Linked DNA regions of Homo sapiens. The protein of the gene in region 1 purifies or fractionates together with the protein of each later gene. This does not show direct contact. Each region holds a gene or a part of one and is shown on either strand. Other genes may lie near its edges.

Region 1 (4,644 bases):
TGGAGGTGGCATGGGGGCAGCACATGTTTTAGAGTCAGATTACTCCTGGTTGCTTATTGGCTCTGAGACCTCCGTAAGTTCCGTGTCTCTGAGCCTGTTTGCTCACCTGTAAATCAGGGATAATTCATAGGTAAGGTTGTGAGAATTAAATAACATCTGTAAAGTGTCTAATAGGTTCTCAATAAATGTTTATTCCTTTTCCTTTCTGCTGCATTTCAAGAGGTTTTGAAACAATGGAAAAGAGCAGAGGTAGTTAGCTTGATGAAGGGGAGAGCATGGTGGAAAGGATGTTCCAGGTTAGGTGAGGTGTCTGCTTGATGGAAGGAGCCAGTAACAAGGGTGACTTGGAGCTTTCAATTCCCTGAGAATGAATGCTGTGTTGATAAGGACTGTAGCAGGGTTGAGGAAGTACCCTTGGAAAGAAGAAAGAGGAGCACACCTCTGCCATCAGCAAAAAGGCCAGAGGAGGTGAGAGCTATGTGGAGGGAGAGAAAGGGAATCTGGCCTGTGCTTAACTGACGTGAGAGCCAGACTTTGAACTCCAGTGGCTTCATTTACCACTCATGTCATCTTGGGCCAACTGAGATCACTTTTCTAAGCCTCTGCTTCACTGGAATGTTGTGAGGCCTAAATGAGAAGCATAGAGCCTGGCCTGTGGACATGTTTTTAGTATTGGTGGGGAGCTGCACACCTGGTGGCCTCCGTTTCTCCCATGGACTAAGTCATCTGGGTGGGTGTGGTGCTTGAAAGCAGACACTTTGGGGATAGAGAGCCCCCCCAGGGTAGGGTTCTTGCCCAGCCGTATATCAGCTGTGAGACCTTGGGCAAGTGCTCTAGTTTCTCTGAACCTTGGTTTCTCCTTCTGTGTAAAATTAGGATACTAGGACCTATTCTTAAATGTAGAACCAAGAGGATTAAATGAGATAATGTGTGAAACACTCATCATGGTACCTGGTACATAGTAAGCACTCAATAAATAGACCCAAAGGGTAGGGGCCAGCAAATGTTGATTGAGAATGCATGGAAGCACTGCTGAGCAGCAGGAGGGCCCAGCTGGGGCCAGAGCTTTAAGCCAAAGGAACAAAAGTTAATTTTGAGAAACTCAGCATTAATCAGCAGTTGGGAGACATCTCCCAACCCCTTCAGCTCTGTGTGACATCCAAACCAAGGGTAGGCATGGGGGCTTAATTGTCAAGTGATGAGGACTTGGATAACTTGGTTTCTAATGCAGACCACAGTCCTGTGGATCTCTTCCAGAGGCAAGGGCCTTCTTGACCATCTGTAATGTGACCACTCTGCCTGCCAGCTTTGGCCTCAGGCACGTGGTGCCCCTGCTTCATGCACTGCTGTACCCACAGGACCGGGGCTTCTGCGTGGAGGTGAACACGGCCTTTGAGGACTTCGCCCACGTCATAAGCTTTGACAAGAGGGCTGCCGCACTGGACGCAGGCAACATCAAGCTGACCTTCAATAGTGTGAGGGGCTGGGCGGGGCGTGGGAAGTTCTCTAATTCATCTGTGTCTTGCTCCATTCCTTCTCACTCACTGTCCCACTGACTATATTCCCAATTCAGGGGATGGTGGTAGAAGCCCAGACCCTAACTTTCCACCTCCTAAGGTATGCCTGAGTGGGACCTGGCATCCACCCTCCTGGGTGACCCTGTTCCGTGTCCCTTCTTTCCTCAGCTGCTGGAGAAAGCAGAGGCACGGGAGAGGGAGCGGGAGAAGGAGGAGGCACGCAGGATGCGGCGCAGGGAAGCTGCCTTTCGAAGCATGCTGAGGCAGGCTGTGCCTGCTCTGGAGCTAGGCACTGCCTGGGAAGAGGTCAGGAGCGTAGCCTGGCCCCAAGCACCCCTCAAGCCTGAGGGCAGCGGTGCTTCACCACTGAGGGCCCACCCCAGTCACGTCACAGCCCTGGGCCAGCTCCAGTTCCCTTCCTTTCTCTGCCCCAGCCCTGCCCTGTGCTCATGGCGGTGTCCAGGCCAGGCTGAGTGGGGCCTAGTCTGATCAGCAGTGCTCTCCTCGTTCAAGGTCCGTGAGCGTTTTGTGTGTGACTCAGCCTTTGAGCAGATCACCCTGGAGTCGGAGCGGATCCGGCTCTTCCGGGAGTTCCTACAGGTGCTGGAGGTGAGGCAGGCTTGTCCTCTGGATCTGCCTCAGGCCCTTGAACTCATTAGACCAGTTCAACAGAGACCTCAGTGGCCTCCCTCTTACCCTTAGGGCACTCCTGGCCAGCTAAGGAAGGGGAGGCCTGAGGATCCCTGGGATAGGCAGAAGGCTCTAGTCTGAGAAAGGGAGGCAAAGCCAGATTTTAGGAAGTAGGATCCTTCCTGGGGCTAAGTCTGGTGCTGTCCTCACCCTTCTTCCTCTGCCTCTAGCAGACTGAATGCCAGCACCTCCACACCAAAGGCCGAAAGCATGGCAGGAAAGGCAAGAAGCACCATCACAAGCGTTCCCACTCACCCTCAGTGAGTAAGCGTGTAGAAGGGACATGGGGTGAAGCTGGGTTGTTTTGGGGAAATAAACACTTTGTTTTCCCCTTACAATATCTCCCTTGGAGGGAAGTTTGAGGATTCCTTTGGCCCTGGGTCCTCCTCCTCTCTCGAATTCCCAGACGAGGGCTTCTGGAGGGCAGAGAACCTCTGCACTGACATGTATCTGCTGATCTGCCCAGGGCTCTGAGTCAGAAGAAGAGGAGCTGCCCCCACCATCTCTCCGGCCCCCCAAGCGGAGGAGGCGGAACCCCTCAGAGTCAGGCTCTGAGCCCTCTTCCTCACTTGATTCAGTTGAAAGTGGGGGTGCTGCCCTTGGAGGACGGGGCTCCCCTTCCTCCCATCTTCTTGGAGCAGGTAAGCAGTTGCTGTGAGCGTAGAAGCTGGAGAACTGTTGTCCCAGACTGAGAGGATGCCCTCCACAAGCCCCAGCTCCTTTGAGGGTAGACTGGATTGGGAGGGCTGCACCTGTGGAAGTAGAAAGAACTTCCTCTACCTGCCCAAGCAAGAAGCTGGAGAAGGAAAACTGGACTTAGACTTCCTCAGAGCATGAGGTTCCTGCCTGTGAAGAATGAACAGAGGGGCTAGAACAAAGAAAAAGAGCCTGTCTTTCTCCTGTTGGGACTTAGTAGGGATTTTTCTATCTCTAGATCATGGCCTTCGGAAAGCCAAGAAACCAAAAAAGAAAACTAAGAAGAGAAGACACAAGTCGGTGAGTGAAGGAACTTCTACCTAAGCCCCTGCTATTTTGTGAGTTCTGTTCTACCTGCCTCCCAGGCTATCCACAGGAACTGAGGAGGTGGGCTCTGGACTCTTACAGAATAGTCCTGAGAGTGAGACAGACCCTGAGGAGAAAGCTGGCAAGGAGAGCGATGAGAAAGAACAAGAACAGGACAAGGACAGGGAGCTCCAACAGGCAGAGCTCCCTAACCGTTCCCCAGGCTTTGGAATCAAGAAGGAGAAGGTGAGGGGCAGGGGCCCTAGGCCAGTCAGCACGCTGGTCAAGCTTCCACGGCCCTTAGTGCAGGCTAAGGGTGAACTGTGCCTTTGCTCCAACAGACAGGCTGGGACACGTCAGAAAGTGAGCTGAGTGAGGGTGAGCTGGAGAGGCGGCGGCGGACACTCCTACAGCAGCTGGATGATCACCAGTGACCCAATGAGCTGTTCTCTGCCTCGGGTCTGTGTGAGGCCATGGCTCCTGGGCCACCCTCACCGTCTGCCTCAGACTTCTTCCTTAGTCTGGTCTGTGTCCACTTTTTCTAAAGTAACCCCACCCCCAGCACACCATTGTTGGCACCTCTCAAGGTTGCTCTTGGTGTTCAAGGGTCCCCTACTCCCTGGACTAGTGCAGTCCTTGCCCTCAGCCCCAGACCAGAGATGGGTGGTATATGCCATGTGGGGTGGGTGATGCCAGTAGATAAAAGTGTGAGAGAAGGGGTCTCCAGGGAAGAGTCACAGGCTGTTGGACGCAGCCTGGGTGGCAGAGGGCAGGGTCATCACCCTCTAGCATCAGTGCCTGCTCCTGCCTGCCCTGGCCCTGAGGCTCCACCACTTCTTCCTCCACCCAGGACCTAATGTACGTGTGTTTTGTTTTTTGTTTTTTAAATAACAATATTTATAACATGGCCAGTGACTCTTTTCCATGTGCTACTGGGGCAGGCTGGGGACTGGACACATGCCCAGCAGAGGGCACTAGTGTCTCATGGCAGGCCTGCTTCCCTTTGTGTGGCTAGAGCCCACCTAGCCGGTTCTCCTTTCCCCAGAGTTCTGATCTCATCTCCTCCAAAACAGATGCAGTGCCCCAAAGATTTCTTTTCTATCCCCATAGCCCAGGTCAGACTAAATGGCCACCCTAGCCCCCTAAGCTCAGAAAGAGGAGACAAAGTCAGGCCTGGTGCATCAAGCCTTTGTTGAGAGGGGGAGAGTCTGAGGTTTATGTACAGTAAGAGGAAAGGGAGGTGGTACATGTACAAAAAAGTGGGCCCCCACATTCCCTTCCAGGGGCAGAGGAGAAACGGGAAGGTAAGCAAATAGCCAAGACCACCATGCTCCTTGTCCCCTGCCAAAAAAAAAAAAAAAAAAAAAAAAACCGTAGCTGAGGAAAGAAGGTGAAGAGTTGGCACACCCTTTCTCCAGCCATCTGCAGAGAGTGG
Region 2 (7,039 bases), on another chromosome or scaffold:
ATTATAGGTGATTATCTTCTTCCTTATATCTTTTTTTCCCCCAAACTTTCTACAATGCATATGTATAATATTTACAGTTTAAAAATGCTTTAAATTTAGTTTGTAGCTTGCCCATGTTTAACCAGTGAGGTCTAAAATGCTAGCTATGTGATACGACTTAAGGCCCATAGGACTCAAAAATTGGAGTCTCCGTTAAAAAATGGTGTTTTCCAGTAATATGCAATGACGTGAAGATGAAAATGCTATTATATAAAGTAGTATATGGCATATAATTCCAATTTGTTAAAAAGTACACACATATATACTTATAAAGATACTAGAGGAAAACATAAAATGCCAACAGGTCAGTTGTTGGTGTAGGGCATGTGGGCGATTTACTTTCCCCTTTTTGTGTCCTTCTGTTTCCACTTATTTATTTATTTATTTTTAATTTTTAATTTTCTTTGAGATGGAGTCTCACTCTGTCACCCAGGCTGGAGTGCAGTGGCATGATCTCAGCTTACTGCAACATCTGCTTCCCGGCTTCAAGTAATTCTCCTGCCTCAGCCTCCCGAGTAGCTGGGATTACAGGTGCGCACCACAACGCCAGGCTAATTTTTGTATTTTTAGTAGAGATGAGGTTTCCTTATGTTGGCCAGGCTGGTCTCAAATTCCTGGCCTCAAGTGATCCACCCGCCTTGGCCTCCCAAAGTGCTGGGATTACAGGCATGAGCCACCACACCTGGCCCTGTTTCCAGTTATTTATAATGAACATTATCAGCATCTTTTATAATTTGAAAAAATTCAAAATTTAGTTTGAGAAGAAAAACATTGCCTCTATCTAGATATGGAATATCGGCTATCTTTTCAACTTGTCTTTCTCTCCCGTGCCTCCCAGCCATCCTTCTATTCCTCCTCCACTTGGTGCCATAGGTTCCTCTCGCCTTCCATTCCCATAGCTGCTCCTCTGTCCGCAGCTCATTTCCTCTTCTCCAGAACATAGCAATCTCTTAACCTAGTTTGTTTTCCTGCCGTCCCTTCTCTCTCTCTCTCTGACCTACTTCTGGAAGCACAAATGCTGGAATAATCCACGTGGATGACACTGCTCCCTTGCTTAACAGCCTGTGGCTCACCGTCCTAATGCTATTACTGGGAGTGTTCAGCCCAACCTTGTTACTGGCTGCCTTTACAGGGCTGGGGAGTGGGATGCAACAGTTACCAAGCCCCACCATGGGCCAGGCTCTGGAGGGCAGGCCCTTTTTTGTTAACTCACCTTTTGTGACAAAACCATGCAGCTTGACCATGCTAGCTTGGAAATAGGGTTCCAAAGTGTGTATTCATGCTACTTACAGACTCAGCTCTGCCGCTGACCTTGAACTTGTTTAATCCCCCTGCTTTTCCTCAGCTGTAACACAGATGTCCTGCCTCCCTCCCAGGGAGAGGCGAGGGCTGGGCACTCTGTGGCAGTTGGTAGCTGGTTTCCTTGCGAGCTGTTGTCCCTAAGGGATGCCCTGTACACCTTTGTTGCCCAGAGGTCTCGAACTGTGCTGACTGCCCCTTTGCTGTAAGAGCTCAGCCCAACTCATGAGCCCCCATTATCTCTCCAGCCCCAGGGTGGGCTCCACATGGCAGACGTTCCTCATCAGAAATGTCCCCAACTGTCACCTCCCCCATAAATGCATCCCTCTCAGATTTGACTCTGTTGAAATGTTCAGACCAGCGCCCCCAATTATCTTTATGTTCAGGGGTTCATTTCTTTGAATCTTGACGGGGCTCACTCTAGAACACCTACCAAATTGACAGGGCCACACTGGCTGCTCCCTTCCCCCTTAACCGCTTTGTCCTCATCTCCAGCAATGGCAACATAACCCCTCGGTCTCCCAAAGAAATCTAGGCCACAGCACCCACATCTCCCTCTCCTCAACTCCACATGCCAAATCCAGCTCCTTCTCTCTTTCCTAAGCATGGTCCAAGTCCATCCCACTACATTGCTTTGTGGGCCTAAAAGGAAGAGGCTGTAGCACAAACCAAGACTTAAGGAGTTTACTTGAGCCAAAGTGAGGACAGATTCCTGGAAGGCCCAGACCCAAGTAACCTTGGACATTATCTCTGTTTGGCCTTTGTTACAAGCAGTTTTTTTAAAAAGGCAAAAAAGAGGGACCGGGAGTGGGCTGATACAAAGTTGTTAGGAATTCTCATTAGTTTACAGAAATAACATTGATTAGCGACTGGTTATACATTGTTACACTACAGGGTGTGGGTTATAGTGTCCAGTGTGGCATTATTAGGTTATTTTTTAGCTACTTGTGCCAATGGCAAGCAGTTTCAAGAGATGAGGCCAGGTGTGGTGGCTCATGTCTGTAATCCCAGCACTTCGGGAGGCCGAGGTGGGTGGATAACTTGAGGTCAGGAGTTTGAGACCAGCCTGGCCAACATGGTGAAACCCTGCCTCTACTAAAAATACAAAAATTAGCCTGGCATGGTGTCTTATGCCTGTAATCCCAACTACTTGGGAGGCTGAGGCAGGAAAATCGCTTAAACCCAGGAGAACGAGGTTGCAGTGAGCCAAGATTGTGCCACTGCACTCCAGCCTGGGAGACAGAGAGATACTGTCCCAAATAATAATAATAATAATAATAATAATAATAATAATAATAATAAAAAGATGAATACACAGCTCAAAGTGGGGACTAGAACGTTATTGCTGTCTCATTTTCATGATTCTCTGGGCCTGATAATTTAAAAGGGCTTGCATTCCTCAGATAAAAGTTACTTTCTCACCTTTAGTCCATGACTTCCTCGCGTCTTGTCTGAACCGTTGCCATAGGCTCCTCTTATGCTTTCTTTGGCATCCCCAGCCTCACCCTGCCCCTACCCATGTCCCTCCTTCCCAAGGCAGCCACTGTTCCCGCTATTGCTGCCACTCAGGGCAGCATGACCTCGCTGGCACACTCCCTGTATTACCGACCTTGAGCTAAGTGCTTTACGCACTGACTCTTATCATTCTCTTGACAACCCCAGAAGGGTAGATTTTAAGATCTCCACTTGACAGATTAGCAAAACCAAGCTTCAGAGAGGTCAGCTAACTAGCCTCAGTGGTGGGCCGGGACCAGGCAGCCAGAGCCTGTCCCTGTAACCACTAGATGCTTGTGCTGCCTCCCTGCAGCGGCCTGGGCCTGTCTGTTGACTTCCTTGTGAACAGGCAGGGACCCTGGGTCTTTGGCTGTCAAATGTTTAATAAGTGAGTGCTTGCCTTGCACGGAACCCACACCACACTTACTCAGGCCCCTGGCTTTGGTTGGGGTCAGGCTCCATCATTTGCTGACCCTTATCTTTAAAAGTTCACCCTGAGGGGAGGAATGTTTTTAAAAGTTTTAAGTTATAGCATCCATTACAAAAACGTTTTCCATTGTGAAACCCCACAGAATTGATATTGTGCTGCAAGGATCAATCCTGCCTGACGCAGGTCTGCCAGCTGCCAAAAAACTGGTTAAACGTGTTAAGTTCAGAAAACCTATTGTCTGATGCTTTCTCACTGATTAAATGAGTTGTATTGACCCAGCATGTTGTAATAGTTGAAAGGTTATAAATTAACTGCATATACTCTATCCCACATGTAGACGTCTGAATAGCTACCACGGTACAAGCAAGAAGAGATTTTAGAAAGTTAAAACCATTGGCTTTTCTCACACCCCCTCCCTTCTTTTCACTTTTTTTCAGCTTTATCTTGGGTAAAAGATGTGTGATCAGACCTTTCTCGTTAATGTATTTGGCTCATGTGACAAATGTTTCAAACAACGAGCTCTGAGACCAGTTTTCAAGAAGTCTCAACAACTCAGCTACTGTTCAACATGTGCAGAAATTGTAAGTGCCACTTAAAAAAAATTCAGTTATCTGTCTTAAAACAGTCAAGCGAGGGTCCTGTGACAGATGAGATGCCATAGAATCAGCTTATATAACACACACTTTTCAGTATGCCTGGGCTTGGTGAGGCAGTATAGTACAGAGGTTCAGGGTGTGGACTCTGGTGTCTGACTGCCTGGGTCCAAATCCTATTGATGTTCCTAGTTATTGGTGTGCAAGGAGGTTCTCACCTCTCTCCTGAAGCCTGTTTTTCCCATCTGCAAATAGGAATGCTAATAGCACCTACATCATAAGAGTTTTATGATGATCAAATGATTTCATTTGATAACTTATTTTAAATAGTACCCAGCAAGGAAAGTACTCAATGAATGTTTTAGCTTCTATTATTTCTTAGGGCTAATACTTTTTTCTTCTGACTTCTACAAGTCTGCTTGGCAGGCAATCAAGCTAAAAGAGAAGCTGGCAAATAAACAGTCTAGGAGCATCTTTCCAAGGACCGGTCCCAGTGGTGTGTAGGTCCAGCTCTAATGAAGATGGAATCTCACAGGGCCTCAGTAGTGAGCAAAATTCAGCTCAGAAGTACTCCTTGGGCCTAAGCCTTCAACAAAGACTAGGAATGGAATACAAATCCTGGAATTTTTCAAAGTACACAAAATCAAGTCCTCACCAGAGGTGGCTGTGCACAGGCTTCAGATCTTGCAGCAAAAATGCCCACAGCATCACTGAAGCCCTAAGAATTAGTCCTATCTCTGAGAATTTGCAAAGCTGCGCTCAATAGTGCAGCTGAGCAGAGCCCCCACTTGGTGAAAAGTGGTAAAGCACTCCTCCTGAAAAGCCCAGTAGGAAATCCCCACACATTTAAAAAAACAACAACAAAATCCATAATACAACCAAAGAGAGGAAAGATGACTTTTACATTTTATCTAACTGAAAAAGAAAAGGCACTTTTTATCCTCCTGATTCCACTGTAACCCCTGACCATGATTACATTAAAAATTATTCCCTTAAAGCAAATAGCAAGTAAACAGCCCAGGGTGGCATAAAAAGGCTTTGATACAGCATAGCAATTTGGATATGTCTTCAGCCTAGGTGTAGTGGGCTTCTACCTGTAGTATATTTCTACAGTCTACGTTCTAACTTGGCCCTGCAAATTGTAGAACTGAGGACATTTAGTTCTTAAAAATAAACCTGCTTTCTGGGGGCCTTACCCCCCCCCCATTATTTATTAATCTAACTCTTCTGCTTTTTAAACAACTTCCTCTGCAGGTGGAATAAGCCCAAGAATCCCAGATTTTGAGTCCTCTGTGGCACACAGGTTCTCCCTAGCACAGGGGCCATGCCTGGAGATACTTTTCTAGGGAATAGTTGCCAGCTAGCGCTACTATTAGGTTGGGGCAAAAGTAATTGCGGTTTTTGCCATTGCTTTCAATTGAAGCAGTGGCACGATCTCGGCTCACTGCAACCTCTGACTCCAGGGTTCAAGTGATTCTCGTGCCTCAGCCTCCTGAGTAGCTGAGGTTACAGGCACAAACCACTATGCCTGGCTAATTTTTGTATTTTTAGTAGAGAGAGGGTTTCACCATGTTGGCCAGGCTGGTTTTGAACTCCTGACCTCAGGTGATACACTCACCTTGGCCTCCCAAAGTGTTGGGATTACAGGTGTGAACCACTGCGCCCGGCCCACACAATCTTACTTAATTCTCATAACAATTCTCATTGCTTTCAATTGAAAGCAATGGCAAAAACCACAATTACTTTAATACAATCTCTACTCTCTACTTGGGGGTTCCCAAATATTCAGACAGCATCATTCAGCTGAAGAGACATCCAGTGACTGACAGCTGGCCTTTCATCCAACTGTTTGGGATTATGTAGACACAGTCCCCATTGGGCCCTTTTTGTGAATAGGAGTGACCCTTTATCTCAACCACTGTGGAATGTAGCTGACCTCAACTTTTCTGATATCCAGCTTCCTCAGTGGGAGTTAACACCAAAATACAAGAAAGTACTTGGAAAACTGCCTAACCATTAAAAGTCTGATGGCCTCATCTCTAGATAGTTGACTCTCCAGGTTGGAGGCTGTTCGAGGTTTATTTTACACAAAGAACCCCCAGAAGAGGGCACACACCAGTGAGAAGTACCACGTGCCTCAGGTCTTCACAGCCAGGAGGACCTTGAACCACACACACATCCTGCAACGGTCCAAACAGAGCCAGCCTAAGGAGGTGATGAGATGAGGCTGCCTTGCCTGGGCCCCCTGAGATGGCCCTTGTGAGAAGAATCCCCCATGACCCAGTGTCTCATTTAAATTACCTCATGTGAACTGCTCAAGCGTATCAGGCAGCCTCAGTAATAATAACAGATGCATACTGTGTGCCACGCACTGCTCTCTCCGAATGCCATACAGAGTCTGAAGGAGGTGTTGTCCCCCATTCACAGATGAGGAGCCTGAGGCACCACAAGTAAATCCCTCAGGCCACAGAGCAGAGCCAGGATTTGCCCCCAGGCAGTCAGATCTAGATAGAGCCTGTGCTCTTAACCTTTTGCTTTACAAACTCTCAAACAGGTGTAATATTTTTGCTTTTATATATTCTTATCTTATACTTAATAATTGTATTTATATATTTATTCATTTATAAACATGTTTGTTATATGTTTATATTTTTAACATAGTTTATACAGATTTATATATTTTATATATTTTTTATACATCCATTTAATAAACTAGCATTAACTGAGCACCTACCATATGCAAGTACTATGCTAAATATCTAAATACTAAGGAACAGCGACAAGTAAACCTATTATTATACGGATGGGAACGGAAAAGAGAACTAGCAGTGAATAAGCATCTGCTATGTACGGAGAAGTCTGCTAAAGTCTTCACCCACACTATCTTACCTTTTTTTGTTTTGTTTTTGTTTTTGTTTTTGTTTTTTTTGAGTCTTGCTCTGTTGCCCAGGCTGGAGTGCAGTGGCACGATCTCGGCTCACTGCAACCTCTGATTCCAGGGTTCAAGCGATTCTCGTGCCTCAGCCTCCTGAGTAGCTGAGGTTACAGGCACGTACCACCACGCCCGACTAATTTTTGTATTTTTAGTAGAGAGAGGGTTTCATCATGTTGGCCAGGCTGGTTTCGAACTCCTGACCTCAGGTGATACACCCACCTTGGCCTCCCGAAGTGTTGGGATTACAGG

What was found. Proteins that work in one complex are often made in the same cells at the same time.
Region 2: the proteins of PRPF40B (region 1) and GNB5 purify together in Homo sapiens (affinity purification with mass spectrometry; 2 studies listed by BioGRID and IntAct, with this or other methods). This does not show direct contact.

What each region holds. Positions count from the first base shown.
Region 1 is NC_000012.12:49,640,550-49,645,193, forward strand, and holds the end of PRPF40B (pre-mRNA-processing factor 40 homolog B), read left to right. Parts: exon of another isoform or gene 1-1,358; coding exon 1,359-1,475; exon of another isoform or gene 1,476-1,685; coding exon 1,686-1,823; exon of another isoform or gene 1,824-2,030; coding exon 2,031-2,126; exon of another isoform or gene 2,127-2,377; coding exon of another isoform or gene 2,378-2,380; coding exon 2,381-2,467; coding exon of another isoform or gene 2,468-2,471; exon of another isoform or gene 2,472-2,673; coding exon 2,674-2,848; exon of another isoform or gene 2,849-3,141; coding exon 3,142-3,203; exon of another isoform or gene 3,204-3,311; coding exon 3,312-3,455; coding exon of another isoform or gene 3,456-3,550; coding exon 3,551-3,643; 3' UTR 3,644-4,116; downstream 4,117-4,644. UniProt on the Homo sapiens protein: May be involved in pre-mRNA splicing.
Region 2 is NC_000015.10:52,181,355-52,188,393, reverse strand, and holds part of GNB5 (guanine nucleotide-binding protein subunit beta-5), read left to right. Parts: intron 1-3,699; 5' UTR 3,700-3,717; coding exon 3,718-3,843; intron 3,844-7,039. UniProt on the Homo sapiens protein: Enhances GTPase-activating protein (GAP) activity of regulator of G protein signaling (RGS) proteins, such as RGS7 and RGS9, hence involved in the termination of the signaling initiated by the G protein coupled receptors (GPCRs) by accelerating the GTP hydrolysis on the G-alpha subunits, thereby promoting their inactivation.